Linked DNA regions of Homo sapiens: regions 2 and 3 are each linked to region 1. Evidence: fine-mapped expression QTL. A gene starts in region 1. Each other region holds a variant in brackets. All regions are shown on one strand. Distances are between the middles of the regions. Region 1 holds the start of ANKS6 (ankyrin repeat and sterile alpha motif domain containing 6). Region 2 overlaps GABBR2 (gamma-aminobutyric acid type B receptor subunit 2). Region 3 overlaps GABBR2 (gamma-aminobutyric acid type B receptor subunit 2).

Evidence for each region. PIP is the estimated chance that this variant, and not a neighbour inherited with it, causes the effect. A credible set is the group of variants that fine-mapping cannot tell apart.
Region 2: its variant is the best candidate, but not a certain one, in a credible set for the expression of ANKS6 in lung (TOPMed, PIP 0.70).
Region 3: its variant is the best candidate, but not a certain one, in a credible set for the expression of ANKS6 in whole blood (TOPMed, PIP 0.88).

The regions. Positions count from the first base shown.
Region 1 is chr9:98,792,132-98,802,379 of GRCh38, forward strand. It overlaps ANKS6 (ankyrin repeat and sterile alpha motif domain containing 6), which reads right to left and starts at 4,424. Exons shown (of 15, transcript NM_173551.5): 1 at 4,002-4,424. The coding sequence starts at 4,360. It overlaps LOC124902229 (a long non-coding RNA gene), which reads right to left. Exons shown (of 2, transcript XR_007061689.1): 2 at 6,317-7,478. RefSeq lists enhancers at 3,687-4,187, 4,188-4,688 and a silencer at 3,947-4,566.
Region 2 is chr9:98,539,834-98,550,081 of GRCh38, forward strand. GABBR2 (gamma-aminobutyric acid type B receptor subunit 2) reads right to left here. Exons shown (of 19, transcript NM_005458.8): 3 at 2,040-2,210. Among named protein-coding and RNA genes, the nearest start is that of GABBR2, 160 kb to the right of the region's middle. The variant C/A (reference allele first, on the strand shown) is at 4,331.
Region 3 is chr9:98,479,681-98,489,928 of GRCh38, forward strand. GABBR2 (gamma-aminobutyric acid type B receptor subunit 2) reads right to left here. Exons shown (of 19, transcript NM_005458.8): 5 at 1,252-1,317. Among named protein-coding and RNA genes, the nearest start is that of GABBR2, 220 kb to the right of the region's middle. The variant G/T (reference allele first, on the strand shown) is at 3,769.

The sequences.
Region 1 (10,248 bases):
CCCAAACCACACCTTCCCGCCTTCCCCACACCTTCACCATCCTGACCCCACCAGAGGACTCTCCTGTCCTCATCTACTCAGCACACCCCCACCGTGTCCTGCTTCAGGAGTCATATCTCACCCACTCTGAGCAGCTTCCAGACCACCCCTCAACCAGGCTAGGTCAGTGCCCCTCTTCTGAGCACCTAATTCCACGGGCTCGCCTCTGGCTGCACGTGAGCCCTCTTTCCCTAATTGTCTCTCCTATTCAGTGGCAGGCTCTCCAAGGACAGGACAGGGTTCCACGCATATTGTTTCCCCAGCCCCTACCATAGTGGCTGATCCACATCGGAGCTCAGTAAATTTGGTCAAACAAGCCAAGTAAATGAATGCATAAATGGCATAACCACATAGGGGAAGGTCCAGAGGTGAGCAGTGGAAATCCCTGAAGAACTGGTGTATCCTCCACTGTAGTACATTTCTAAAAGATTACACTATTTAGTTATCAAGCATGAGATAAAATCTAGCATAATCCCTAACAGCAGATTACAAGGTGCGTCACATTTTTATCTCATTTGATCTTAATAAACCCCGAGATAAACTCACAGATTAGGAAACTGAAGATTACAGTGGAAAGCAATTAATCTAAAGCCTCTCAATTTGAACGTGATAGAGTCAAAAGTTGCACCTGGACTCAAAATCGAAGCTCCAGTATAACCAATTTTTAAGGAGGAAGAAAAGGGGTGAATTAGAGCAGAAATAGTGAAATTTGGAATGTTTTCTGAATTAGTGAGTAGCCCAAGAGAGCACTCAACTATGCTGAAAATATAAAAGGATCCAAGCAAGGCTGAGATAATGTTGTGGATGCTAAGTTTCTAATAGGTAACTGCCGGAGATGGGCATGCTAGGGGCTTTCTGAACAGGTGCTGTGATTACTGATGAATTTCAGCAATTAACACCTGTGTTTAAAGAGCTGGCACACATTTTCCCCTCTCAAAGCACTGGGCTGAGAGTCCAGCTCTGCCCCACTGGCAGGCAGGAAATGAAGGGTAGGGAAGGAAGGTAAACACTATGCAACCCTGTCCCTTGGAGAGAAGTCTCTGGCAAATTTGGCAAGCCGCTTCCAGGCACCAACACCAAGAGGGAAACTATCAGTTACAGGATTCATGGCTGGGAGCACAGGCTCTGGAGCCACCTCCCTAGGTGTGAATCTGACTCGCCACTTGGTAGCTATGTTACTTGAGCAAGTTATTTAACTTCTCTGTTCCTCAATTCCTCATTTATGAAATGAGGATGACAATAGTACCTCCTTCCTAAGGTTTTGTATGGATTGAATGACTTAATTCATTTAAAGCACTTAGCACAGTGCTTGACAGAAAGTCAGTGCTCAATAAAGGTTGTTTTTTGTTTTGTTTTGTTCTGGTTTTTTGAGATGGAGTCTCGCTCTGTCGCCAGGCTGGAGTGCAGTGGCGCGATCTCAGCTTACTGCAACCTCCGCCTCCCAGGTTCAAGCGATTCTCCTGCCTCAGCCTCCCGAGTAGCTGGGACTACAGGTGCGTGCCACCATGCCCGTGCCACCACGCCCAGCTAATTTTTGTATTTTTAGTAGAGACAGGGTTTCACTATGTTGGCCAGGCTGGTCTCGATCTCCTGACCTCCTGATCTGCCCGCCTCGGCCTCCCAAAGTGCTGGGATTACAGGCGTGAGCCACCGCACCTGGCCAAAGGTTACCTATTATTTTAAGAACATGAAAAAACATGCCCCAGCGCGGTGGCTCACGCCTGTAATCGCAGCACTTTGGGAGGCCGAGGTGGGCGTTTCACGAAATCAGGAGATTGAGACCAGCCTGGCCAACACAGTGAAACCCGGTCTCTACTAAAAATACAAAAAGTAGCTGGGCGTGGTGGCACGTGACTGTAATCCCAGCTACTCCGGAGGCTGAGACAGGAGAATCGCTTGAACCCAGGAGGCGGAGGTTGCAGTGAGTCGAGATCACGCCACTGCACTCCAGCCTGGTGACAGAGCGAGACTCCGTCTCAAAAAAAAAAAAAAAAAGAACAGGAAAAAACACTAAGGTCACCATTTCTAATACTAAAACACCCACAAAAGACCAAAGGCACAGGGTGTCTAATAGTCTGGCCTGATCCACACAGAGAGCTGGGACGATAAATAGATGCTTGCTCAGACCCAGCGTGGTGGCTGCCAGGGGTGTGGTTTTGAGCAGGATTCTGGGGGCGTATCCAGATCCAAGGAAGAAGAGCACAAGGCTGGAAGGTGTCAGCACACAGGCCATTCATTTGCCTACCCCGATGTGAGGGACAGACACACTGTACATCCTTCTGGAAGTCTTCCATATATACTACTCCTCAACTTGACCTTTTCTTATGAATTACGCAGCAGAAAGCTGGAGCACAACTCAACACAGGCAGAGATGCTACCTGAATATAGAGTCGGTGTCACACCAACTGAGGAACAGCACATTTTAAAATACCCAGGCTCAAGACTATCCTGCAGAACTTGGTTAAAACTGATGATCTGGGGTCTCTGAGACACTCTGAGGCATGTCAGTGCTGTAGTCACAAACCTCACTCAGTAAATTCCTCAGGGGGCTCACCAGGGCCCCTGTGCACGCACTTGGTGGATTGCAGAGATGAGACACACATAACACATCAGTGGCTCCCAAACCTACCATACAAGAGAATCACTGGGGAGCCTCTTCTCACACAGAGTCCCTGTCTCTTACTCCCCTCACTGCCCTGGGCCTTCTAAATCACAATCTCCAGAAAAGGAACTCAGGAATCTGCACTTAGACAAGCATCCTGGTGATTCTGATGTGTGGCCAGGTTTGGGTACTGAGGAAGCCAGTCAGCATTAACATGGTGTGATGGATGCTACCACAGAGGCCTTTCTGCTGCGGAGGGACCAGAGAACAGGGAGATATCATGGCAGGCTTCACAGAAGCCAGATCTCTAGATGCCATCCTTGCTGTCTCTCTTAACCCCTCCCCAAGGGCCAGTCGTCAACTCCTGCTGATCTACTCCCTGAATATATCACAAATTCATCTGGGTGCCCTCCCTCCGCTGTCTCCATTCTGGTCTAGGCCACCATCACCTCTCACTCAGACTGCAGCAAACTCTACCTAACCAGCCTTTTTGACTCTAGCTTACCCTAGAGTATCTAATCTATTCTCACACTTCAAGGAAAGTAATTTTTCCAAAACGTAACTCTCATCCTGTCACTCATTCTGCCTAGAACCTTCCATGACTCCCTAGCACCTTCCATGACTCCCTAGCACCCTAGGATAGCTAGCGTTTCTCAGCTCCCACACTCCCCCAACTCCCTGGCATCTGCCTTCTCTCCAGGGAGGACTAGTACATCATTCTACTCATACATTCTACGCATACCTCATTCTACCAGTCCTACCAGCTCGTGCACCCAAGCCTTTGCATGGGCCTCCCATCATGCCTTCCCACAGCCCACTTGTAATGTCCTGGCTAATTCTCAGGTATCCGCAGGTCTCCACGTGGATATAAACATCTTTTCTACCAGAAACCTTCCCCCACGTCTCCAAAATGGGTCACCTGCCCCACAGCTACTCAAACCTTTCCGGTCAAGCTCGTTCCTTTGCCTGGCCTGCCCACCAATGCCCTGGGTGGGGACTCTGCCTGGGTCTCGCAGCACCCTCAACGCCAAGCCAGGAAGGGAAGGCAGGTTCTGAGGAAACTCTTACTGCAATAAGAAATGAATTAAATCTCTAAGGTTCTAAGTCTCTACAATTCTATTCGCTGTCTCCAGATTCTATTCTGAAAGGCCAAAATTTCTAAGAATCTGATTTTATGTTAATTCAAAAGTGTTTCCACGTCTATGCTCAAAGTTTACAAAAGACTACTCAAAGTTTACCATTCCAACTCTAAGGAGTCCTTAACTCTTCACCTCCCGGGGCATCCGGCCGCCGGGGACCGCGTCTCGGGCCAGCGCCGGGCACCACTCTGGTCCCGGGCCCCCGGGCCCCGCCGCCTCACCTGGCCGCCTGCATGAGCGCGCTCCAGCCGTAGTGGTTGCGGCTGTTGACCGAGGCACCGCGGCGCAGCAGGAAGCGCACCAGCGGTTCGTGGCCCCCGGCCGCGGCGAACTGCAGTGCGGTGTTGCCCGCCTCGTCCGAGCAATCCACGGGCACCGGAGCCCCGACTGCCCCCGCCGCTGCGGCCCCGGGCCCGGCCACCTCGGCCCCCGCCGGCTCCGCGCCCGCCTCCGGCTCCGCGCCGCGCTCGGCTGGCTCCGCCGCCCCCGGCTCCAGCAGCCGCCGCGCCGTCTCCGTGTCGCCCTGGTCACACGCGCGCAGCAGCAGCTGGAAGGCCGGGGGCAGCCCGCCCTCGCCCATCGCCGCCGCCACGCGCGGCCCGCTCCCGTCCGCCCCGCCGGCCGCGTCGGCTCCGCCCCCGGATACCGCCCGCAGGCGCCCCCTTCCGGCCACCCGCCCGCGCCGCGCGCCTACTGTGTGCCGGGAGCGCGCCGGGGCTAGGGCCGCGCGCCTGCTGTGTGCCGGGAGCGCGCTAGGGCCGGGGCTGCGCACCTCCAGTGCCCGTATTCGGGAGTCCAGGGACGCTCAGAGGAGCGCCCGCCGCAGACCCGCGTGTTCCCTTTTGCCTCTTCGGCGCCCTCTCGCCGCCCTGTCCCGGGGCTCCAGAAACTTCCTGTCAGGGCAGAGGTGGGAGCGGCCACGCCATCCCCTCTTCACGCTGTGGTCAGGGCCCTGGGCCCGGGTCTGAGTCCGCAGCTGCGTGGGCCTTGACTTTACTAGCGGGCTCCGCTGACCCCACCGCAGCCCCTGGCACTGAACCTGCCCTTCTAGAATAAGGAAGCGGCTGAATTAAGGAACGAACGGATTGTTTCCTCACAGTGTCCTGCGGTGCCCTTAATGTCGCTCCTTCATCTGGGCCAGGCTGCTGGGGCTAAAAGCGCCTCCTGTTCTCTCTCTCTCCCCCACCTTTTATTTCAACTATTATTATAGATTAAAGGGTACAGGTTTGTTACATGGGTAAATTGTTACATGGGTAAATTGCGCGACGCTGAAGCTTGTGGTCCCAACGATCCCGTCACCCAGGCAGTAAGCATAATACCCACCAAGAGGTTCTTCAGCCCAGAGTCCCCTCCATCCCTCCCTGGCCTAGCGATCCCCAGCGTTTGTTGTTCCCATCTTTGTGTCCATGTGTACTCAATGTTTAGCTCCCACTTATAAGTGAGAACATGCAGTATTTGGTTTTCTGTTCTTTTTAGGTCGCTTAGGATAATGGCCTCCAGCTTTATCCATGTTGCTGCAAAGGGCATGATTTCGTTCATTCTTATGGCTGCATAGTATTCCGTAGTATTCCATCATATTCTATCGTGTATATGCACCACATTTCTTTCATTCCTTCCCTCTCTTCCCTCCCTCCCTCCCTATCCCCCTTCCTTCCTCCCTCCCTCCCTCCCTTTCTCCCTCTCTCTCTCTCTCTCTCTCTCTCTTTTGACAGGGTCTTGCTCTGTCATCCAGGCTGGAGTGCAATGGTGCAATCTCTACTCACCACAACCTCTGCCTCCCAGGCTCAAGCAATCCTCCCACCTCAGCCTACCGAGTAGCTAGGACTGCAGGCAAGTGCCACCACACCCGGCTAATTTTTTGTATTTTTGGTTGAGAAAGGGTTTTACCATGTTGTCCGGCTGGTCTCAAAGTCCTGAGCTCAAGTGATTCACCTGCTGTGGCCTCCCAAAGTGCCAGGATTACAGGTGTGAGCCATCACATCTGGCTCTGTACCACATGTTCTTTATCCAATCTACTGTTGATGGGCACTTAGGTTGATTCCATACCCTTGCTATTGTAAATGGCACTGCAATGAATATACAGGTGTCTTTTTGATAGAATGAATTATTTTCCTTTGGGTATATACCTGGTAGTAGGTTTGCTGGGTCAAATAGTTCTATTTTAAGTTCTTTGAGAAATCTCCAAACTGCTTTCCACGGTGGCTGAACTAGTTTGCATTCCCACCAACAGTGTATTTTCTCCACAGCCTTAGCAGCACCTATTGTTTTTTGACTTTTTAATAATTGACATTCTGACTGGTGTAGATGATATCTCATTGTGGTTTTGATTTGCATTTCTCTGATGATTAATGATGTTGCGCATTTGTTTCATATGTTTGTTGGCTGCCTGTATGTCTTCTTTTGAGAAGTGTCTGTTCATGCCCTTTGCAGAGACACAACGAAAAAAAGAAAACTTCAGGCCAATATTCCTGAAAAACATAGCTGCAAAAATCCTCAATGACATACTACAAACAGAATCCAGCAGCACATCAAAAAGTCAATTCACCATGATCAAGTAGGCTTTATTTCTGGAATGCAAGGTTGGCTCAACATGCGCAAATCAATACATGTGATTCACCATATAAACAGAATCAAAAACAAAAACCATATAATCATCTCAATAGATGCAGAAAAGGCCTTCAATAAAATCCAACATCCCTTTATAATAAAAATCTTCAAAACAGATTAGGCATTGAAGGAACATACCTCAAAATAATAACAGCCATCTATGACAAACCCATAGCCAACATCATATTAAACAGGCAAAAGCTGGAAGAAGACTCTCACCACTCCTATTCAACATAGTACTGGAAGTCCTAGCCAGACAACCAGGTAAGAGAAAGAAATAAAAGGCATTCAAATAGGAAAAGAAAAAGTCGAACACTCTGTCTTTGCGGAGAGTATGAATCTATACATAGAAAACCCTACAGAGTTTGCCAAAAGGCTCCTGGAAATGATAAACAAATTCAGTAAAGTTTCAGGACAGAAAATCAATGTATAAAAAGCAATAGCAGTTTGATATGCCAATAACATTCTAGCTGAGAACAAAATTAAGAACACAACCTCATTTACAATGGTCACAAAGAAAATGAAATACCTTCTCTCTCTTTATCAGCGGTCCTTGAAGTGTGTCCCACACAGCAGTAGCACCATCACCAGCTGCAACACTGTTACAAACGCAGATTTTTCTGGCCCTACCCAAGATCTACTGAATCAGAAATTCTGGGTGTGGGTTCAGCAACCTATATTTTAACAAGCCCTCTGGGTGATTCTGATGCATGCTAAAGTTGGAGACCCACGTTTGATCTTCATTGCACGCCTGCCATCCACCGGGGAGGGCCCAGATGATCATCCCTAGGTTGCAGAGGAGGCAACCGAGGCACAAAGAGGTTGTGTCTTGCCAAAGACTCCACAACTATTCTGCAGGAGAGCTGTGAGTAGGACTCAGGTCTTCTGACATCGAGTCCAACTCTCTTTCCATTTTCAACAAATATGTATTGAGTGCCTGCCATTTCCAGACACTGTTTTAGGTGCTGGAAAAGCTGCAGGATTTAGTACAAGGTTCTTCTGTAGCTCACAGATCCATGAGAGCCTGAGAACCAGTTCTGGAGGCCCCAAAGCCAGGAACAATGACCCAAATCTCATGCCGCAGCTGCACCCTGTAGGAAGATGGGGTTGGTTCAGGCCCTTTTTGGTGTTCCTGGCTTCAGATTCAGAGGCTGAGGTGACAGTGCCTGACTGGCCCAACTTGGGTCATGTGCTCATATAATAGCGGGAGGTAGTTTCTGCTTCAGAAGGTAGGGCACTCCCAAATGTAGGAAGGGGGTTCAGATGCTGGGCAGTCAAAAACGATAACAAGTGTTTGCTATGAAATATTCCCTCTGGACACCCTTTTTCTTTTGGGAAGCCTTTCTTCCCTACTCACAGTCTGTGTGCTTCAGTGGTTAGCACATATCCTGATTGGCTTCAGCCCAGGACTTTTTTTTTTTTGAGACGGAGTCCCACTCTCTCTCCCAGGCTGAGGTTCAGCGGCACAATTGCACCCCACAAACTGCAACCTCTGTCTCCTGGGTTCAAGTGATTCTCTGCGTTAGCCTCCCGAGTAGCTGGGATTACAGGCACCCACCACCATGCCCGGCTAATTTTTGTATTTTTAGTAGGTACGGGGTTTCACCACGTTGTCCAGGCTGGCCTCAAACTCCTGACCTCAAGTGATCTTCCTCCCTCAGCCTCCCAAAGTGCTGGGATTACAGGCATGAGCCACTGTGCCCAGCCCAGCCCAGGATTTTTGCTAAAGCAATTGAGAATGAGGCCCTCTCTGCTGAGGTTGCCAGCTATCAGGATGTCAGCCAAACTGGTGCTCACTTTGCCACCACTTGAAGACAGCCTGCCTAAGAGTGAAGTCACCACAAAAGAAAGCAAAACCAAGTGATAGAAAGAGACTAAGTTAGAAAATCCCTCCCCACATTCTTTTTGGTGAGGTTTATTTTGAGCAGCATTGTTGTCACTTGCATTCCAAGCCTTAACAAATGGATAATTTACTTTTTTTGTAAATGAATGGGTTCATACTACGCATGCTATTCTTGAATCTTGCTTTTTTTTTTCTTTTTCCATTAACAAATGTCTTGGGCACCTTTCCATGTAGGTAAATACAGACTGCTGCATTTTAAAAAAATGATTGCGGCCCGGCGATGTGGCTCATACCTGTAATCAATCCTAGCACTTTGGGAGGCTGAGGCAGTCGGATTGCCTGAGCTCAGGAGTTTGAAACCAGCCTGGGCAACACGGTGAAACCCTGTCTCTACTAAAAATACAAAAAAATTAGCCAGGCATGGTGGCATGTGCCTGTAGTCCCAGCTACTTGGGAGGCTGAGGCAGAAGAATTGCTTGAACCTGGGAGGTGGAGGTTGCAGTGAGCCGAGATCACACCACTGCACTCCAGCCTGAGCGACAGAGCGAGACTCCATCTCCAAAAAAATTTTAATAAATAAATAAATGATAGCATGAAACACCATTCAGCAGACGTACCATAATTTATTTAATCATTTAATTTTTATTTCTATTTTATATTTTTTGAAATGGAGTCTCACTCTGTCATCCAGGCTAGAGTGCAGTGGTGCAATCTTGGCTCACTGAAACCTCTGCCTCCTGAGTTCAAGCGATTCTCCTGCCTTAGTCTATGGAGTAGCTGGGATCACAGATGCCCGCCACCACACCAAGCTAATTTTTGTATTTTTAGTAGAGACGGGGTTTTGCCATGTTGGCCAGGCTGGTCTTGAACTCCTGACCTCAAGTGATCCACCCGCCTCGGCCTCCCAAAGTGCTGGGATTACAGGCATGAACCACTGTTCCCAGCCCATTTAATCATTTTAGAATAAGGCACAGTTGAGGCCGAGTATGGCGGTTCATGCCTGTAATCCCAGCACTTTGGGAGGTTAAGGGGGGTGGATTGCTTGAGACCAGGAGTTCAAGACCAGCCTGGCCAACATGGTGAAATCCCATCTCTAATACAAAAAAAAATAGCCAGGTGTGGTGGCACATGCCTGTAATCCCAGCTACCTAGGTGGCCGAGGCACGAGAATCGCTTGAACCTGAGAGGCAGAGGTTACAGTGAGCTGAGACTGCACCACTGTACTCCAGCCTGGGTGACAGAGCAAGACTCTCAAACAAACAAACAAACAAACAAACAGAAACAAGCACAGTTAGCTTGTTTCCAGTTTTCTGCTCTTATAAAAAATACTGCATTGGACAGCGCTTGTAGCAGCCAGGGTCCCACCAGGAAACAGATGGCACACTTGGCTGAGGAGCTGGGGAATGCTTACTAAAGGACCATTTACAGAAGTATAGGCAGGATTTACTAAGAGCCACAAGGGATGGTGCAGTACTCCAGGGCTGGTAATAGTACAGAGCTGTTACCATCCCAGGCCTGAAGGGGAAAAGGGGAGAGCAGGTACTGGAATTCTGCAAGAGAGAAAAATTGCAGAGACCTACCTGATAGGAGCTACAGCCTTTGGTAGAGGGACAGAGCCAACCCACAGCAACTCAGTAGGGAGCTATCCTCAGAGGAATAAAAACCTCTGACCTCACTCTCCTCCTGCCCTCTGATCTCCTGCCAGTGCTCCTCATTAGTAAACCCTACTGGAAGCTAGAGTCTTGGAGCCTGCTGATATAGTTCATGCAGTCAGCCTTCCAGGGCACAGAACAGGGTGAAGAGAAACAGCAGGGACAAATGGACGATGTCTAGCACCTTGCTGCTCAATCTGGGGTTCTTGGACCAGCAGCACTGGTATCACCAGGGAGCTTGTTAGAAATGTGGCATCTTGGGCCCACACCAGACCTGCTTAACCAGATCTAGCATTTCAACAGGATCCCCAGGTGACTCACCATACCATACATTAAAGTTTGTGAAGCACAGATCCAGCACATCTT
Region 2 (10,248 bases), 250 kb before region 1:
TGAACCCAGGAGGCAGAGGTTGCAATGAGCCGAGATTGCGCCAGTGCACTCCAGCCTGGTGACAGAGTGAGACTTCGTCTAAAAAAAAAAAAAAAAAAAGAAAAAGAAAAGAAAAAGGAAAAAGCAAGTCTCTCTAAATCCTAGTAGAGTCCAGTGTTAATGGGGCCATGGGATGGGTCCTTCTTATCCTCCACCATCCACTTGTTTCACTCTCATTTTAGAACATTTCTCGCTTCTCTATGAAGGCGGCCTTTCAGCAAAAGCCTCTTCAGCGTTTGGCAATGAGTCACTCCCGCTGGAGGTCAAGTTCCCTTTGTGCCTCCTCCTAGGGGCTGAGAAACAGAGAGGTGGGAAGATGACGAGCAGTCTTGCCTGGGAAAAGCTTGCCTTGTTTGGATACCCACAGACAGTGGGGCCAAACACTTCCACTTTTCACGCACCTCCAAAAACAACCCTCTCTGTGTATGAACTTTACAGTTTACGAAGCTCTTTCAGATCCATTACTCATTGGATTTTGGCAGAAGCCCTGCAGGGAGGCATGCAAGAAGTTATTGTCCCCATTTTACAGGGGAGGAATCGAAGCTCAGAGAAGCAAGGTAACGTCTCCAAGGTCACACAGCCAATGTATGAAGTGGTCTCTCCTTCCCATGGAAGAGACAGGGGGCAAGAACCTCAGAAGGTAAGTGCAGAGCTGCAGTGGAAACCAGGTCTGCTGATTACCAGCCCTGTTCTACTCCCAACTTTCTTGCCACCCTGCCCGGCCTTTCCCCATTCCCAGGCTGGCAAGAGGCTGTGTGTCTGCCCCCACCGCTCCGGCTGAGGTCTGTCTAGACCCCTGACTCACACATGGAAATCCTCCACACGGCTAAAGTTTGTTTCTCTTGGGCTGCTAAGAACACTTGGTTTGTCTTGTGTTTTTGGAGGCTCCAAGTATCAAAAGCACACATGGGAATAGAAAGGAGAGGAGGAGGCACAAAGCAAATGGGAAAAAAGACAGGAGGCCATTTTGTACTCATCTGAGTGAGGCTAATGTTTCAAATATTTGTTAATATCCACTGTTAGTAAGGATATGTGAAAATGGGAATTTTCAAATGCTGTTGGTGGGACTAGAAATTAGAACTGCCTTTTTGGAAGTCAGTCCTTCTCAAATTTTTAAATGGCCCAGCAAATCCACTTCTAGAAGTCTACTGCCAAGACGCACACCTAGCCATGAGAGTATGGTTGTCCCATTGAAAAGTGGTCAACGTTCAGAGGGGCTGGCTCGGTAAGTTACGATATACCCATCTGACAGAACACCAGGTCCCTTTAAACCATGAGGTTAATCAAGACCTCTAAGATCTGTTGTAAAGTGAAAAAAGAAACATACATGATATGAAGTCATTTGGCTTTAAAACAAATACATTGAAAAAGTTCTAGGCAGATGAACCCCTAAGTGAAAGCAGGAGTTAACTTTCAGAGAGAAAGCATGATTCAGGTGGCTTAGGACAAAGCAACACTTTTACATTTTTTACTACCCATATTTTGGCTTTTTTTTCCCCCACAACAAAACACATACACAAAACAAAAAAATTGCCTACCATATATTAAGGTGTGTTTGTAAGTCACTTAGAACAAACAAAACTCTGTACCCCATCCAAGGTGACATTGGCATCTTCGGTCCAAGCCAGCCCTTCCCCAAAACTCTCCTCACAGATGAACACACCCCCTGGTAGAACTTTGTGATCTTAGATGGTCACGACAGCATCAGTAACAAAGACAAGCCCACAGGGCCACTGAGGGAATAAGCCACACGAGGTAGCCAATAAAAAGAATGAAAGGGAAGGTTCACTCCTGATGATGGTTTCCACCAGTCCTATGCACAGTGAAATTCCTCAGCTACCAGCTCTATTTTGTCAACGGTGAAACAGCTTTGATCGCACTAACCAACACATGCTTAAAAGCCCTGTGACAGTACCCATCCCTGACTAAACCACATTGCCTTTTGCTAGATGACAGCAGCAAGCAGTAAGGCAGGCCGTGTCCACACAAGCCGAGCGTACCTCAGAGAACCTCTGAACGTCTTGCGTCAGCGTGCCCACGCGCTTCCACTGGTAGTGCTTGAGCAACTTCAGAATGGCTGGATTCACCGCATTGTCTGATGGGACGGTCCGAAAGAAATAAGGGTATTTTTTCTTATCGGCTAGAACAGGCGTGGTTGCAGCAAAAGAAAGCTGAAAAACACAAAAGAGACAACGCTTTTTACTGATGAGCCTCACAGCTGTGACCCAGCATCTTTCCTACTGGAATAGAGACTGTTAGCTTCAACTTAGAGCATAAACACACAGGGACAGATATTTTTAAAACTTTTTTATTGTAAGAGTAACATATCATAATGGAAGGGAAGGTTTAAAAATGCAAAATAAGGAGGAAGAAGGGAAAAAATAGCCAATGATCTACCCCTCCCTAAAGAACCATCATTCATGTTATCGTCTATTCCTTCCCAGTCCTTTTTCTATGCAGTGATTGAATTTTTTAAAAAAGATCCTGAAATCATTCTACATGCACAATTGAACTGTTTTTCCCCATTTAACGGTATCCTTAAAAACTCTTCGTAAACCTTATAATAGCTGCACAATATTCCAGCATATGAATATACCATAAATTTACTGAATCGTTTCTAATTTGGGGTTATTTCGATTATTTCTAATTTGTCATTATCATCATATTATTCTACAGGCATCTTTGTACATAGCATTTTTGTTTTATATTTTGGGATGTTTCCATAAGATAGAGTCTGTGATGTAAAATTTTCCAGATAAAGAATATGAGTCTTTAAAGATTTATACTTATTTCCAAAAAACATTTTATCGGTTTGCAAATTTAGTAGCCAGGAATGATTAGAGGGCCAGTCTCACCACATCTTTGCCAACACAGGGAGTAAAAAATGTTATTCTGTCTAATTTTATAATGATTTATCACCAAATAAAACCCTGAATCATATCGCATTCATGGTTATAGATAATGCTGAACTTTTCCCTATGGTTATTAACTAGTAGCATATCCTATTTTAGGAGTTACTTTTTCATGTCCTTTGTTTATTTTTTGAGTGGTATTCTAATGCTTTTCAGATTGAATTTAATGAAGATATTTTATATATATAGCGTTCAAACTCAGGCTATTATAGTTGCTGCAAATATCTCAGTTTGCCTTTACATTTTATGTGTGTGTATTTTAATTTACACTCGATAGTCAAAGCTGTCCATCGTTCTCTTTATTATTTCTTCTTTTTCTTTTAAGTGCCAGTTAAGTTGTTAAGTTGGATTTTAATTGTCTGTTCCTGAAGGCCCAACCTAAATGCCACCCCTTCCATAACACTTCCTCTGATCTCTGTTCCTTCCCTCAGCCTCAGCCACAGAAGGTAGTTATCAAAGTTTTTGATCTTTGCAGTATGATGGTGAAAAGATGTTATCTGGTTATAGTTCTAATTTGCATTTTTCTTAGAGTGAGTGAAGTTGAATATTTCTATTTTGTTATATTAATTTTATTTATATATATATTTATTTATTATTTAGAGACAGGGTCCATTCTGTTGCCCAGACTGGAGTACAATGCTGCTATCATAGCTCACTGCAGCCTGGAACTCCTGGGTTCCAGCGATCCCCACCTGCCTTAGTCTCCGGGGTAGCTGGGACTATAGGTGTATGCCTCTATGCCTAGCTAATTTAAAAATCTGTCAGAGAAGGGGCCTCACTATGTTGCCTAGTCTGGTTTTGAACCCCTGGGCTCAAGCCTCTGGCCTCAGCCTCCTGAGTCACTGTGACTACAGGTGTGCTATCGCACCCAGCTTCTTCCTATGTGTAAAAGTAATTGGTAGTTCCTTTCTGGAAACTGTTCACATTTTTTGCTTGTTTTCTAATTTGACTAGTAGTCTTCCTTATCAGTTTATAGAAATGATCTTTTATATTAAGAAAATTAGCCCTTTATGATATAAGTTGCTAATTTTTCTCCCAGTTTGTACTTTGTTTCTTGATGTTGTTTATAGTGCCGTTTCCAGGTAATCACGGTTTTTTTTAATGAGGATGAATTTATCAGTTTTTTTCCTTTATGACTTCAGGTTTTATGTCATATTTAAGAAAGGCCTCTCTTACTCTGAGATTATAAAATAATTTCTCCATGGTTTCTTCTAGTCTGTCTGTCCTCCCTCCTTCCCTCCCTCCCTCCCTCCTTCTCTTCTTTTGTTTCATTCAAATCTTTGATCCAGAGAGGGCATGGATGAAGCAAGCTCAATCTTTGCTGCCACCAGCCATCTCCCCAAACCCTTGCTTGTCCCAGCAGCAGCTCTGGATTTGAT[C/A]CATCCTAGGTTCCAATTTAAGCATCCAGGGAAATAACATCCTGGTACCCTCAGCCTCCAGCTAAAGTTGCTTTACCGCTTCTTCTGTCACCCTAGAACCACGTTCCCCTTACAAAAGTTTGTGGGGGGCAGTAGAGATTTGTCCCTTTCCATGTCTGTTTCAGAGGGTAGACAGCCACTCTCTAGAATTGCTGGATCTCCTATCTATTGGAGCTGACCACACAACAGTAATTCAGCCATTACCTGAAGCTACAGAGCCCCCGTAGAAACCATCTTCTAAGATCCAACAGAGAGACACCCCAAGACCGGTAAAGGTCAAAGGTAGAATGACTTTTGTCAGTGTTCAAAGATTCTTGGTAGACGAGGACTAATGAGAGGGAAATTTCAACTGGACACATTGAGGAACATTCACATCAGAGTTGTCTGGCCTTGGAAAACCTGCCATCAGAAGTAGTGAGATCCCTGTGTCTGGAGGTGTGCAAGCAAAGACTGGACCACAACCTAGTGAGAACAGAAGGGCTTCAAAGTGTCTGTGAACCCCCTGAAAACTGTAGGAAAGGATTTGCATGGCCATGTATGTGCAGACAGACATGCACATTTTTCTGAAAAAAAGAATCAGTGGCTTCCATCATATTCACAAAGAGGATCATTCCAACCAAATCAAGGTCTGCACACCTGCCTTCAGTTGACATTTAGGTCCCGTAGTGAGTGCGGGAAATAAAGCTCTCTATAGTCCCCTCAAACCTACTGTCTGTGATTCTTCTCACAAGATTAAAAACACTGCAAGCCTCCTATGCTCACCAGTGGGAGAAGGAGCTATTAGAAAAACCTGGGAGGAACTATTTCAGGACAGGGACATTATATATACCATCACATCCCCAAAAATCCTTATCTAATACAATTTGGAAAATATTGGCTTTCTGATGTGATTTCTTAATCACACTCTGGTTGCTACTTTACCATTATTGTCCCATTAGTTCCAGGTCCACAATTAATTGTTGCTTGAACAACCTCATGTTTTCCCTGTGGGTAATTACCGTGGTTACTGTTCAGTGAATAAATGGCCCATTGGGTTTACAATAGGCTTGGAGTACAATATGTGCCCCGGGTCTAAATCATGTTGGGTGCAAAATATTAACTGGCACTGACATTTTCTGCACCATTTGAGATAATGCACGCTTTGATTAGATTGCTTTGCGTCACTGTTTCTCTGGCTTTACTCTGGCTTTAGCCTCCTGAAACTTTCTTCCATGGGCAAAAACTGCAGGTGCCCAGTAGCACTGCTGGACTTCAAAACTAACAGACATCTGAGAAATCATCTAGCTCTGGGGTTCTTGGCACACTGGAGTTATTTGGGGGAGATTTTAAAGAATACTGATGACTTGGTCCCACTCCAAACGAACTGAATCAGAATCTCTGGGCATCTAGCCCAAGCATCAGTATTATTTAAAAATTTTCCAGGTGATTATGATGCTCAGTGAGGGTTGAGGACCACAGATACAGCTCCACACCCCTGGTTTGGAATAAGTAGACTGCAGCCCCGAAATAAGATATCAAAATTCCACTACAGCTAATAAGAGGTAGAAGCAGGACTTGAACCCGGGTCTATAGGACCCTAACACTAGTGCGCTTTCTCCCATGGATGACTATCTACCTGCCTCCTACATGCTCCCCAGGCCTTCTTCCCCTAGCACAGTCACCCAGCATCTGGCATCACCAGGGCTGTTAGCATTAGGGCCCTAACTTGGAGACCAAGCTTTCTGAGCTCTCCTGCCTTGTTTCGCATAACCAAGTTTGTTTCTGAACAGATTGTGATTGAGGCTTTGAGTTAATTCCTAGCCAAGGATTTATTTCGGAGAGTATTTTAAAATTTAATTTCTAGTTTTCTTATAATTTCTAGTTTTATTGCATTATTTTGAGAATTTGGCAAGTGCAGTGTCTGCTTTTGGAATTTATTGAGATTTTCTTTGTGGCCTATTATACAATCAACTTCTGTACAAGTTCCATGGTGGCTGGAAAAAAGATGAAATCTATAGTCATAAGCTATAGAATTCTTTATTAGACTACTTATGCATAATAGATATAACCAAACTAATTATATTATCATACGCTTTGTATTTTTGTTTACTTGATCTATCAAAGGCTGAGAAGTTTGTTAAACTTTTTTCTATTGTCTCTGACCATTTCTTCATGTATTTCAACTGTTTTTGCTTTTTATGTGTTCATTTTATCTTGTTTTGAGCATAAATGTTCATCACAATTATGTCTTCATTTTTCAGCAATATATACTTTTGCCTAGTGCAAATAACAGGCACTTAATAGATATTCATTGAGCGAGTGAAGATTGAAATATTTATCAAGATAAAATAAACCTGTTTGTCATTTTATTGCTTTTTGTTTGATACTGTATCACGCTTGTTATTAATACTGCAACCCTTACTGTATTTTTGCTTGCATTTGCCTGTCACTTTTTTATCCTCCTTTTATTCATATTCTATTAAGATTGTTTTTAAATACACATCTTGAAAAGAGCATATGGACAGATTTTAAAATATGTATGTTTATTGCTGTAGTAAATATTTGGCCTTGCATTTATCATCTCATTGGCCATCTCTTCTTTTTTAATGCTTCCCTTTTTTTGTTTCCTTTTGTTCCCGCTGGTTTTCAACTTTGTATCTATTCTTCTCTATTCTGGCTATGTGAATTAATCTTGCCTCAGGTCTCAGCCCGCTGGAGTACTTTTTAATAGGTACCTTGAGAAGGATAAAGGGTTGACAACTTACTGAGGATGGCCCTGTGTTGCACTGACACACGGCAGAATTTGGCTGGGCATGAAATTCTTGGGCTACCATTTCTCCCCTTTGAAACTACAAAGTGATGCAGAGGAGAAATTTGGGGCTGGCTTGATTGTCACTGATTGTCGTTCATTTGTAGGTACCCAGTTTCCTCTACCTGGAAGCCTGAAAGATTTTTTTTCCCCTTATTCCTGGAATTCAAAAAAATCGCACTCTTGATTTTATTTGGGATAAAGAGAGCCCTATACACGACCTGTATACAATCCATACACTCAAGTATTTCCAACTCAGTAAAAAAAAACCTAATATATATATATAAAATGACTATGCTATATTTATATTGTGTATATTGTTTTATATTTATATTTTTATAATATATTTAACATATTTATTACATATACATTTATAATATTGTATATATTATACATAATAAATATAGCATATGTAGTATGTTTATCATATATATATTTATATTATATTCCTATATATTCTTGTCTCTCCTCTGGGCCACAGGATTATCTGTATGTTGTCTCCTCATTCTCTAAATCCATATCTGTCCTATTTTCTTTTCATAATTGCATCTCTTAGTCCTTGTCCTCCTCAATCTAGAAGAGCATCTTATTTTACTGTATTTTATTACAAGGTATGTGCATATTAGCTTTCACTATTTTCTGGTAAAATGGCTGTACCCACAGCCCTAGCTGTAGGACATAAGTATTCTCATTTCTTCACATCCTGGCCAGTATTTGATATTATCTGACTTCCTAATTTTTGTTAGTCTTTCAGAGATAAAGTGGTACTTCATTATTGTTTGATTTTGCAGTGCTTTGCCTGGAATGTGGCTGAGTGGTGATACATAGACATGTTAGCTATTCGGGTTCTTTGTTCTGTGAGTTGCCTGACTTGCTTTTCAACAGCCTCAGTTTTAAGCCTTATTGACTTTAACATATTTGTATTGTGTTATTGACATTTTTAGTTTCCTATGAATTTTTCATGATCATCTCCCTTTTCGCCCCATCCTCCAATTGCAGGCTATTTCATGGAGCCTGCTTTGCTGCATATGATTGGGGAGGCTACACATCTTTCTAAAGTTTTCTTCTTTATCCTACAATAGATCATTTTCAGAGATGGACTCTTCCTCCACTTCTTCTGAGTACTCTGCTTTTTTTCATTATTTTTGAAGTACTTTTTCAAAGGTGTTTTAAATTTATTAATCCTCAAAAGCAAAGCAAGTGTTTTCAGGCTGGGCTTATCAAGAGACACATGTGGACGGCACTTGGCCCTGTTTTCTATTTACGTTTTAATTGCATATACTTCTCAGAAGGCCGGAGAATAAGTATTTAAGCACAGTTTTTGGTGTCTAGTAGGCTTTCACCTTAGGCTGGTCTACATTAAATAAGTGACATCATCTTTTACCCTCAGTGCCCAATTTTCTAATACTCTAGATCAACACAGTACATTAAATTCCCTTCCTGCACTGCTGCTAGGGTTTTTCTTTCCTGCCTAAAAAATTTCATGTGGGAAGTCTCTGCTTCCCAGAATGCAATTCACATCTAGTGTGCTCCCCTCCTCTTCTCATCCAGGTTTTTTTTCCCCCTAGGAATGTATAGCTCTGTCTGAGTTTAGTGAAAGAGAGATGAGAATAAAGAGAAAAAAGCAATTTGGTTGTCTCAGAGATCAGCAACTGTTAGGTAGAGGCAATAGCTATCCAATTTTCTAGTTGATATGAGTCCTGAGTCTAACTCAGATTGTAGGGGAGAAAGGAAAAGGTCTACCTGTTAATTTTCAACACAATTGTTATTTTATGAGGCAAGGTTTGGAATGCTAGGAAGCAAAGCTTAGGATTTTCTCAATCTAGAGCCATCTACTTTGTAATTAATGAAGCTTCTAAACATCTAGAATATCAATGAGTATTGGGGTCTCTTGGTTCCTTGAGAGTGTATGTATGTGTATGTTTTTTTGTTTGTTTATTTGTTTGGTTGGTTGGTTTTCTTTGAGATGGAGTCCTGCTCTATCGCCCAGGCTGGAGTGCAGTGGTGCAATCTCAGGTCACTGCAACCTCCGCCTCCCGATTGTTCAAGCGATTCTCCTGCCTCAGCCTCCCAAGCAGTGATTACAGGCACCCACCACCATGCCCAGCTAATTTCTTTTTGTTTTGGGATTTTTAGTAAAGATGGGGGTTTCACCATGTTGGACAGGCTGGTCTTGCGCTCCTGACCTCAGGTGATCCACCTGCTTTGGCCTCCCAAAGTGCTGGGATTACAGGCGTGAGCCACTGTGCCTGGCTTCTTTTCCATGTTTTGATAGTTTCAAAGGAAAGCTAAAAAAATGTTTTATTGGGTACCAAATGTTTTATTGAGTAGCCAAATACCCTTTTTTTTCATTTTTGGTTTATGCCATTTATTTATTTAGTAAACCATATGTTCTCAAATATTGCAAAAATAAAGTTCAAGTCAGTTTAGTAAAAGTATTAGAAAAATCACGAATAAATTTAGTCTGACTTAACCAAATATGTGGCAGGGCCTGGCACCCTCTTTCACGTTGTTCAGATGCCATTTAAACCACAAGGTGGTGTGAAGGTTTTTAAGGTTCATGATTGGTACCATCAAACTGCTCTCTAATGTGGTGGTGCTGCCATGCCCCTGGGGGCTGGTGGATAAGACTGCCCAGCTCATCCCATACTGGCCAGCTCTGGGCACTGAATGGGGTTTTTGCCCACCGCCCTGCTTGCCCCAGTCTGTAGCCAGGCTAAACCTGGATCACCAGCATTCTCTTTGTTTTGAGCAGTTGCCCAGGGAGTCTTGAGCACATCCTGGCCCACAGAAGATCCTTAAATAGCATCTCATTCTTTCACTCCCACCCCAGGAAGTGACCTGAGTGCTTCTGATAATGATGGCATCCAGGTACTACCCAATCTACGACCAGACCACAGGGCCTGATGGCTCCCCTGAACTATCCATGGCCACCTGGCCAGAGGAGTGGCAAAATCCTCCAGAATCTTGGTGTCAAGGACCAAGTTCACAAAGAATTAAGCACTATGAGTGGTTGCCTTGAAGCCAGCATATGGGCAAGGTGAAGCAGCTTTGACCTTCATCCTGGAGCGTCAAGATAGTCCTGTCCAAA
Region 3 (10,248 bases), 310 kb before region 1:
GAGCTGGGCAGGTCTCCCTAGGTGGGGTCTCTCCAGCAAAGAGCAGAGGGACTACCCTGCCCTGGGTGTAGACATGCAATTTGAGGTCACCTCGGCTCTCTGGCACTGTGCTCATGCTGATGACCTTAGTTGCCAGACCCGGTAGTAAACTGGGGGTCATCTGGAACATCCAAAGTCCCTTCTCTTCTCAACACACAGTACTCCTCAGCTATCCCTCTACCACTTGGACTTAGGCAGCTTCATTTGTTCTAATATAATATGTTAGGACCATTTACTCTGCTTGGATTTAATCAAACATTCCAACCTGTTAAAGTTCTTTGCACTCAAACTCTGTCATCCAATGTATTTCATGATTTCTAGAATTCCTATTTATAACCTCATCCACATTACTGACAAAAAGATCAGAGATCTGCGGCCCGTCACCAGACACTACGCCTAGAATGACCTCAGTCTAAAAGGTGAAGCTTATTGGGCAGACAGTGACTCACCTGCCTGGGCTTTCATTTTGTTGACTTTTCTCCTGACATGATGGGGAGGATTGGGAGCTGGGACATCAAAATGGAAACTGACTTAGTTCCTGTGTTCTGTCCCCTACATCTAACTTAAGCTAGAAGTCATATGGAGAAAACCTTTTTTTTTTAGAGACTAGATTGGGGATCAGGTTAATGGGGATGGAGCCTTGGCTCTGCCATGAATTGGCTGAGGGCCCTTGGACAAGTCCCTTTACTCTATGGAGCTCTATTTCCTCATCTGTAAAATGGGAAAATCATAGTTGCTTCACATGGTTATTGAAAAGATTAAATGAGATAAGGCATAAAAAGGTCACCTTTGTCATCTGTCACTAGACAGCTGTAAAGGATTCAGGAGGAGAAAATCAATAGTTGATAATTTGTCCCTAACCTAAGACTCTGAGCCCTACCTACAGGGCAGGGAGGGGGTCTGAGTCACTTCAGCCTCACCCTGATTTCTGGTATCTCCCTGGCTAAGTTGAGCAGACTTAGAATTAGCCAACAAGGCTTAGACTATGGGTTAGACTGAGGTCCCTGGTTCCTCGATGATGGTATTGTTCTGAGCCCTGGGGTTTTAGCTCCCTGGAAAGAGGAAAGAACAGTGAACGCAACTCTTCTGCTTCCAGGAACCCAGGCTCCAGTCCTGTGATCCCACTCACAGACTGAGCAGGGAGATAATGAGTATGGGAAAAAGCTTCGTGAACCTCCCCAAAGACACGAATGATACAACTGTTTTACTTACACAACAGAACACTTTTGCTGCCATATTCTGGTCAAACTGGCCAAGGATGATCCGCACATCATTCCCCTGTGGATGGAAGGACACATCATGAAGGTGAGTAGATGTTCAGCACCCCATAAAGGGTTCAAGGCTGTGGCAGACAACATTCCTTCACCTCTGGCTCTTAGCCCAGAGCTCTGCCTGGGAAGGTGGGCAGGGCAGAACCTCACCCCCAACCCCAGCCCAGCCTGGATTCTCTAGCCCTCTCCAGGGCTGGCTTTCCTGTGGCTCCTGCAGTCAGTCCACCCTGGTCTCATGGGCAAGCCCTAGGGCAAGTCTGTACAGGCTGGAGGCTAAAGCTGACTGCTCTCAGGGGCCTTGCAACCTCCCCTGTTCTCCTCCCACCAGGGCAGGCAAATCCTGCAGTCCATGGAAGCATCATCTAACTTTCTTCCACACTTTACATATAGGAAAACTGAGGCCAGATGAGGAGAAAGGAGCTTCTAAGGCCCCTGGGGAGTTTGTGGCAGAGACAAGACCCCAGCCAACCACACTCTGCTGCCCTGCACAGTGTTCTAGCCCTTTCTACCTTCCTGATAGTTAATCCCTCAAGAAATTCCTGGAGCCTACAGAGCTTCCCAATTAAGAGGTTTCAGACTTGCTTTGAGCTTTGTTCGCATCTCAGCTCTACCAACAAACCATGGGTGGCCTCTGGTCGCTCCTTTTCCATCTCAGCCCCAGTTTCCTCATCTGCAAAATGAGGATAATGGTAGTACGTTCCTTACCGGATTTCTGGGAAGACTAAGTGAAATAGTCCTTGTAAAGTGCTTAACACAGTGCCTAGCACATAGTGAGTGTCCACCTTTATTTCTAAGGAAAATCTATTTTTGAAAGCTCTATACATGGGATTACATTCATTATCTCAGTGTGGTTAATAGGAATGTGTACAGTGACCCCTGTGACTCATTCATTCATTCAACAGACAATTACTGAGCATCAGCCAGAGGCTCTCATGGGTCAGGTAAATGGGGTCTTTGTTGCTTTCTGGGGCATTGGGATCCAGCTGCGTCCTGTCCCATGGAGAAGAACAGGCTGAAAGAGAACGGGTGGGGCGGCCACCAGGAGACCAGCCAGGCCCTGGCCCAAACACCTGCTCCCCATCCCAGCCGCTTCCTGCCCTCCACAGTGAGGCCCAGCCTTGCAGGTGGTGCCACCTTCCTGCAGTTCATCCATCCCCTCCAGCAGGCCTCATGGCCCTTTGATGCATAAAGTAGAAAAATATGCTTTTAAAGATCAGTTTTTAGCATCTTTCAAAATTGGAAAGTGCTGACTGAGAGGCCATTTTACTCATCATGTACTTTAGCAAAATAAAGAAGGCCTGGATTCTAAAATCATCTTTCGTTTGCAAGCAAGAATGGAAAGAAGAGGGGAAAAAAAACACTGGCTCTGAAAGGACTTTAAAAGATCGTTAACAGAGCAGTGGAAGGAAGGCAAGCCTTTGTCATCACCACGTCTGCAATGCTATAAAAAGTTCTAAGCTGCTTCCGTTCTGTGGACTTGCTTCCAGGCATGCTCCAAGATCTTTCTGCTTGTTCGTTAAAAATTTTTAGCATTTTTTGCTGCTGACAGTACCCATGCATCCATCCATCCTTTCATCCAGCAAGTATCTATTGATCATCTACTTTGTGCCAAACCCTGTGTTGCTAAACATGGTATGGTAAAAACAGCTTATTAGATTTTGAAGTCAGAGACCTGGGTTCAAATCACAGCTCCACCTCTGATTAGCTGAAAACTTTGCTTCTTAATCTCCTGGAGCCTCAATTCCTTCATCTCTGAGAAAGGGATAATCCTATCTACCTTGCCCAGTGGTTGTCAATTCATCATAATGAAACTCACCCGGTGGCTTCCATGCTGCTCTCTGCTGGCTCCCCTCGTGCCTGCCTGGCCACTCCTGCTCATACTCCTCATCATCAGCTCCTGACCTTTCTGCCCATCCCTAAATGCTGGTGTTCTGTCCTTAGCTCTTTGCTCCCATCACTCTCCCTGGGCCACCTAGTTCATGACCCCAGCCACAACTGTTCTCTGTGTGCTGTGGACTCCAAATCTCTCCCCCCAGCCTCAGATTTTCTCCAGTTTCCCACCAGACTCTTCCAGTTGGATTCTCTCAGGCACCTCCAGCGCAACATGTCCCAAGCTGAATCCACCAGCTTTCCCAAGAGGCCCTTTCCTCCTCCTGTGTTTTCCATTTCTGACAATGTCAGGAACTTGGGAGTCATCTTAGACTCACTCCTCTTCTTCAACCCTCATCCAAGCCATAACTGGAATCTGTTGGTTCTGTCTGCTCACAACTAGCTCCTTAATCAGTCCCAACCCTCCAGCCCCACTGCCCTGAGTTTGGTTACCATCATTCCTTACTCAGTGAACAGCAACAGCCTCCCTGCACCCTTGCCATGAATCCTGCCCCATCCACCCATCGCCACAGAGCAGAGGAAGGGTTCATTCCTAGATTCAAGTCTGATTGTGTGAAATCTGTCCATG[G/T]CTTCCTGAGGTTTGCAGATCAAACACTGAGCTCCTTAGCACATTCAAGATGTGCTAAAGATAGAGATGGTAAAGATCCTATGCAGTCTTTACCAACTGACTTGTGCTCAATTCTCTATCACATTTCTCATACCCTGCCTTGGCAGTGAGTCCTAAAACAGGACTGCATTCATTCATTCATTTATTCATATTCCCACTTCGCCCCCCACCCATTCTGCAAGTCTATCCCTCCAGAGTGCCCTTCCCTCTCCTCCCACTTACTTTGCCCGCACAGCTGCTACTCACCCTTCCTACCTTAGCCCAGGCTCCTCTGTTCTGAGAAACCATCTCTCTGCCCCATCAGGCTTGGTGGCCACTTCTTCCTCTGTGAGCCTGGATCACCCTGTGCTTGCCTCCAATGTGGCTCAAGTCCACTTACTTGTCTGTCTTCCCCACTGAAGTAAGCGTAACTTGACTTATCTCTAAGTCCCCAGCTCCCAGAACAGGGCGCTACACATATGTCAACAAATATGTGTTGAATGCACGATGAAGTGAATTAATCCAGTGTGCAGCATCACGCACAATGCCTGGCCTACGCTGCTTATTTGGTCACTAGTAGCCATTATCATCACTGCACTAATATCTGACCAACCCCATGGTCTAGACCCTGGGCTCACCATGTCCACTTCTTGAGTAGATCGAGGGACCCACATCTTCATAGCTGACCTCCTGACCACCTGCTGACAGTTAAATAACCAGCTCTGCCACTTGTGAACCATTTGGTGTCTTTGTTGCTATGACAACCGAGTTGCAAGGACCACTTTGTTCAGTGCTCCCAGGCTGTTAGATTTGGATGGGGCCCGTGGGATCCCCCATCTAGCTAATCTCTTCCCAGAGAGGTACAAGCTCTCCCAGGGCTCCACAGAACCAAAATGAAAGCCAGAGCTCTCACTTTGGTTCTCCTTGACCATTAGAGGGCCCTGGAGACAGATCCTATGCAGAGCCAGGTCATGCCTGCTGCAGGAAGCTGTGAACACATACTCTGCTTCTAGACGGTGAGAAAGAGGGGGAAAGACGCTGCCAAGTCTGGAAGGAAGGAGGAGCAGCCCGGAATCCAGGGTTGGGGAGAGGCCAAACGGGGGATGAGGCTGGATGGGGATCTTGGGGGGCACCATAGAGCAGTATAAACAGTTTGAGGTGCTTCTCAAACTAGGGTATGTGCATTCTAGAGCACGAGGAGGTGTCCCGAGTGTAGGAAGTGCAGATATACTGCGTTCTCCTTTCTAAAGTAGCAACTTACTGGAAGATTCAGGGGTTAGGGGAAAGGTTTTGGATTTGGGGAATCTTAATAGTTTTTCCACACATGTGCATGCTCTCATGAAAGTTCCAGAATCATGCTTTTCAATGTTGCATAGCTTGTATCTTTTCCTGAAAGTCCAGAGAGTAGAAAGAAGAAATTTGGGAATAGCAGTAGCCCCTGCTTTCAGACAAGCCCCCTGCCTCCCTGCCAGGGTATGGGCCCATTCTCTTATGCTGAAAGGGCTTGGGGCAGTTTAGGCAGTAGTAGGGGGTAGGGAGGGGCAGCCATAACCATCCCTGAGGATGACAGTGACAGATCAGAGCTGTGATATCACAAAGGACTGGAAACGTGGCAGAGGGCAGGGTCTGGAAAATCCTGTGCCCTTCCAGGGACTTGGCTCTGCAGGGAGCTTCCTGGAGTGAAAGCAGATGACCTGAGTTGGGGCAAATGAGATGGCCAGGTCTAGGGTTGGAGACCATACATGGAGACCTATGTTCACACCCTCAAGAGGCTACTATCACAAGAAAGGGGCAAAAGTGGAAGGAAACAGCGGTGGGAATGGGGTAGGAAAATGGGGAGGGGTATTCAGCCCAAACCCCCAACAGTGACAGGATGAGTGAGGGAGAGGCCCACTAAACTCCCTCTGGAGAGGAGTCTAATGTTGCCAAACCCTGGGTAGCTTTCCTTTTCTTTTTCTTGACCCTGTCTCATCCCTCATCTAGAACCACTTTGTCTCTGGGATGCTTAAAGAGAGCTAAACACACATACACACACGCAGGCACACACACACACAGGCACGCACACACACTCACGCACGCACATGACACTTAGCAAGGATAACCCAATTCAAAGAACTAGCATGTACCCCCAGTTTGCAAGCAATCCTAACATCATAAAAATAACAACTCTCAAGCCCTTTCTGAGCTGTTGTGCTAAACAGTCCGTCAGCCCCACCCTGGGAGGTGGGCGCTGTTATTATGCTCACTTTGGAAAGATTCATGAGCAAAGCAAGGTCCAAAGAATTAAGCAAACTTCCCAGGTGCAGTCCCCTCCTTGGGGCTGGTACACCCGCCCGGCTGCAGTGAGGGTGGGCTGCTGACAGCTCACTCCCTTCTCTGGAGAACTGCCCTCAGCTAAGGGGAGCTTCCTGGCCATGGGAGCCACTCCATGCCCCACACCCCACAGAGAGCAACCAACAACTGACTCACATTGGTGGAAAACTCCGGCCCCCCTGCTGAAAGTTAGGATCAGCTCTGTGGTGCTGTCTGTGCTCCGGAGACCCCTGTGGGGCCAGGCTAAACTGGTATCCATCCAAGACAGAGCTCCTCCTGCCTCATCCTGCTTCCCTCCCCTTCTCCTGAGTACTTCCACAATAAATTACTTTCCCAAGCATCTCAGGCTCTGTTTGTAGGGACTTCAACCTAAGATGCCAGGTCACACAAATAGGAGGTGGTGGCACTGGCCTTGCCCCGGGTGGGTGTGGTCCCAGAGCCTGAGTGCTTGACTCCTCGCTCCTATCTACCGCCTCCCAGTTGAGGATGCAAACCCCACTGGGTCTGAGCTGCTGGAGCTCAGCACTCAATCTGCAGCAACAGCTAACTGAGAAAAGTCATGCAGATGTTGAAGTGAAAGGATATAAATGGCAAATGCAATCCTGAGCCACTGAAATTGCTGGTGTGCATTTAAGAGTGCAGGACAGCAGAGGTGAGGAAGATGAGGGACCACGCCCTCCAGCCAGCCTTCCTTGCCTGTGGAGCATGGACTCTTGCAAGGAAGGTCAAGCTCGACCCTGAGCCTGACCCTGACCTCTGGGTTGTCTGGAATCTCCTGCCACCCATGCATCTGTCTAGGTCCACTCAATGGCATCCTGGTTTCTCAGAGCCTAGCCTCGCAGACTACCTACTGTGCTGGGCTGCTGAAAATTCAAATGTCACAATGCTATATAAAGAGAGGAGATGCTATAAACCCCTAAGGCAGCTGAGCTGTTAGAGGCTGGCCATGACCTGGGCCAGCGGGCACTGCCTAAGGCTTCGGAAGCCCAGGCCAGTCCTGTGCCCCAACTGTCTGGCTGTAGACTTGGAGTGGGCCCTAGAAGTTCAGCCTAGAATGTTCTCCAAAGTCCCTCCTGGCTCTGACAAACTGATCCCATACCCACAATGAGTAGTCCCTTTTATTTAGCTAAAATTTGTCTTACTTAGACCCCACCCCCCACTGGAAATGTCCATAAAGGCAGAGAAGCATATGCTTCACTCTGTCCGTAAAGGCAGTGAAGGCATACGCTTCACTCTCAAGGAAGGGAGCGAAGAGGGAATAGCCCACAGCAGCCCAGTGGAAAGCATGGCATTTCTTTAAAGTTTATTCTTGTATCTTGAAAATTCATGTATATTTAACACTCTAATAATATATCTATGTCGTAAGTTAAAAATAATACCTTTTCGTCTCCATGTCTCTGAGCAAACCTGGCCTGTGAGAAAGATGCACCATGTGTATTCTGCAGCTTTGCGTCCCCTTGGGGTGCCTGTATGAACTTCAGTTTCAGGCAGTCAGGATGGACTCCTGGCCTGTGGGAGTGGCAGTTCTCATCAGGTCTCTCCTATCTGGTTGGGAAAAAAGGGGGTCAATTCCCTAAGGACTTTTTTTTGGCCAGAGTCAAGAGGGAGAGCACAGTTCCCACTAGGACTTTACCATGGAGCAAGGGAAGGGCAGTCCTCTCAAAGCCTACCTTTGTAGTTGTCTTATGCCAGGCAGAATAATAGCCACATCCTGGCTGGGCTCAGTGGCTCATGCCTGTAATCCCAGCACATTAGGAGGCCAAGGCAGGAGAATCACTTGAGCTCAGGAGTTCAAGACCAGTCTGGGAAACGTGGAGAAACCCTGTCTCTACAAATATATATATATATATAGGCTGAGTATGGTGGTGCATGCCTGTAGTCCCAGTTACTTGGGAGGCTGAGGTGGGAGGATTGCTTGAGCCCAGGAAGTTGAGGCTGCAGTGAGCTGTGATTACACCACTACACTCCAGCCTGGGTTACAGAGTGAGACCCTGTCCCCACTCCCCCAGTCCCCCAAAAAAGGCCACATCCTAATCCCCAGAACCTGTGAGTACGTTATGTCACGTGGTAAAGGGAAAATTCACATTCCAGATGGAATTAAGGTTGTTTATCAGCTGATCTTAAAATAGGGAGATTTTCTTGGATTAGCCAGGTGATAATGTATTCACAGGGTCCTTAAATGTATTCATGTATTCACAAGGTCCTTAAACATGGCCGAGGCAGAGACAGTGATACAGTGTGGGAAAGGCTCCACTGACTATGGCTCACTTTGAAGATAGAGGAAGGGGATGCCAGCTGAGGGATGCAGGTGGCCTCTAGATACTGGAACTAGAGCCTCCAGAAGGAACTTGGCCGCACTGACACCTTGATGTTGGCCTGTCAAGATCCATGTAGGACATCTGGCTTCCAGACAGTAAGATAAATTTGTGTTGCTTGAAGCTGTTCAGATTTTCACAGCAGCAATGGGAAATGAAGACACTTCCCTCTCTGGAAAGGCCTTACCTTGGGCTTATCCTGTCTCCCTCCTCTCTCTGCTGGGGTTCTAGGACACTCAGTTGTTGCTGACTAGTCGAGTAGCTTTTCTGGTCAAAGCTGTCCCCTTAATGTGAGGCATAAGGATCCCCACTAATATTGTTGGAGAATTGGGCTATTTTTGTGAGTCACTCAAAAAAGAAAGCCAAACATGGCTCTAAATGGCACAGACATATTTTCTTTTCCTTTTTTAAGAGTAGAAAGCCTGGCTCAATTTAGAGGGTCTTCATGATGTTGCACTGGGGCCCAAATATTGCATCAATATAAAAAATAAAGATGAGAGCTTTCTGCTTATCTCTGTCTTTCTGTCATTCCCTAGCACTTTTTTTTTTAACCGCTCCTCCACTTAAGGCAAGTAAGTTGCAAAGCCCTTTCATTCCTGTTTTGTTACTAAGAAGAAATGGGGGGAGACAGGTCATTTAAAAATGTTGGGTATGAGTAACCTTGGAATGTTGAGAGGCTATGCTGACTGAGGAGTGTGGGTGGACACGAAGCTGGGAGGCATGCCGTGGAGGTTAAGAGCCAGTCTGTAGCTAGACTGCTGAGCTAGAATCTCAGCTCAGTCACTTAATCAGCTTCATGGCCTCAGGCAAGTTATTAAACTTTCGTGAGCTTCAGTTTCTCTACCTATAAAATGGGGATAATAATAGTACCTATCTTCAGAGCAGGTGGTGGCAAACAATTTCTATAAAGGTCCAGATAGTAAATATTTTTGGTCTCATAGGCCATATAGTCTCTGTTGCAATTACTCAGTTCTGCCGCTGTAGCACAAAAGCAGCCAAGGACGTTGTGGTAAATGAATGTGTTCCTATAAAACTTTATTTACAAACACAGAGAGTAGGCCGGATTTGGCCCATGAGCTGTAGTTTGCTGACTGCTATTGTAGAGTTATTGTGGGGATGAAGTGAATTCATGAATCTGTGGGCACAAAGGGAGTGCTTAAAAGTGTCCTCCTTTGATGTTGAAGCAGAAGCGTTGGATGAGGTCAGAAGAAGAGGCTGTGATAAGATGGAGAGAGAGAAGAGGAGCCCTCTGGAAAGAGGTGGCTGCTGGCACAGCGCTGACGCAGGCAAGCAAGGCTCTTGACTCCTCTGGTAAATTCACCTGCAATAGGGAAGCTCTGTGGGCCCAGAGACCCTAAATGAATTGCTCACAATCTTTCAGCTTTGCTTACTGTCTCAAAGTTTGGATTTTAGAAAGTCCTTTGTTATCATTTTAAGATATTCATTAAAAGATAGAGAGTTCCATGGCTTCTTTCCCTGAAATTCTCTAATTTTATTATTTAGTGTTTTATTATTTAGTCTTTTCTCTATTCCAGCATCTCTCAAGTTTCGAACGTAATATCAACTACTGATTTTTCAGCCCCCGAGAGAGCCCAACAGTCTGCCTACGGCGACCATCACACAATTGGGATGGCCCAGTGCCCTCTCTACAGAGGAAGACACCAAGGCAGGGACGGAGTCCAACCCCGGGTCTACTTGATTCAAAAGCCCCTGTTATGCTTGGCACAGGTGGCTCACGCCTGTAATCCAGCACTTTGGGAGGTCAAGGCGGACGGATCACCTAAGGTCAGGAGTTTGAGACCAGCCTGGCCAACATGGTAAAACACCATCTCTA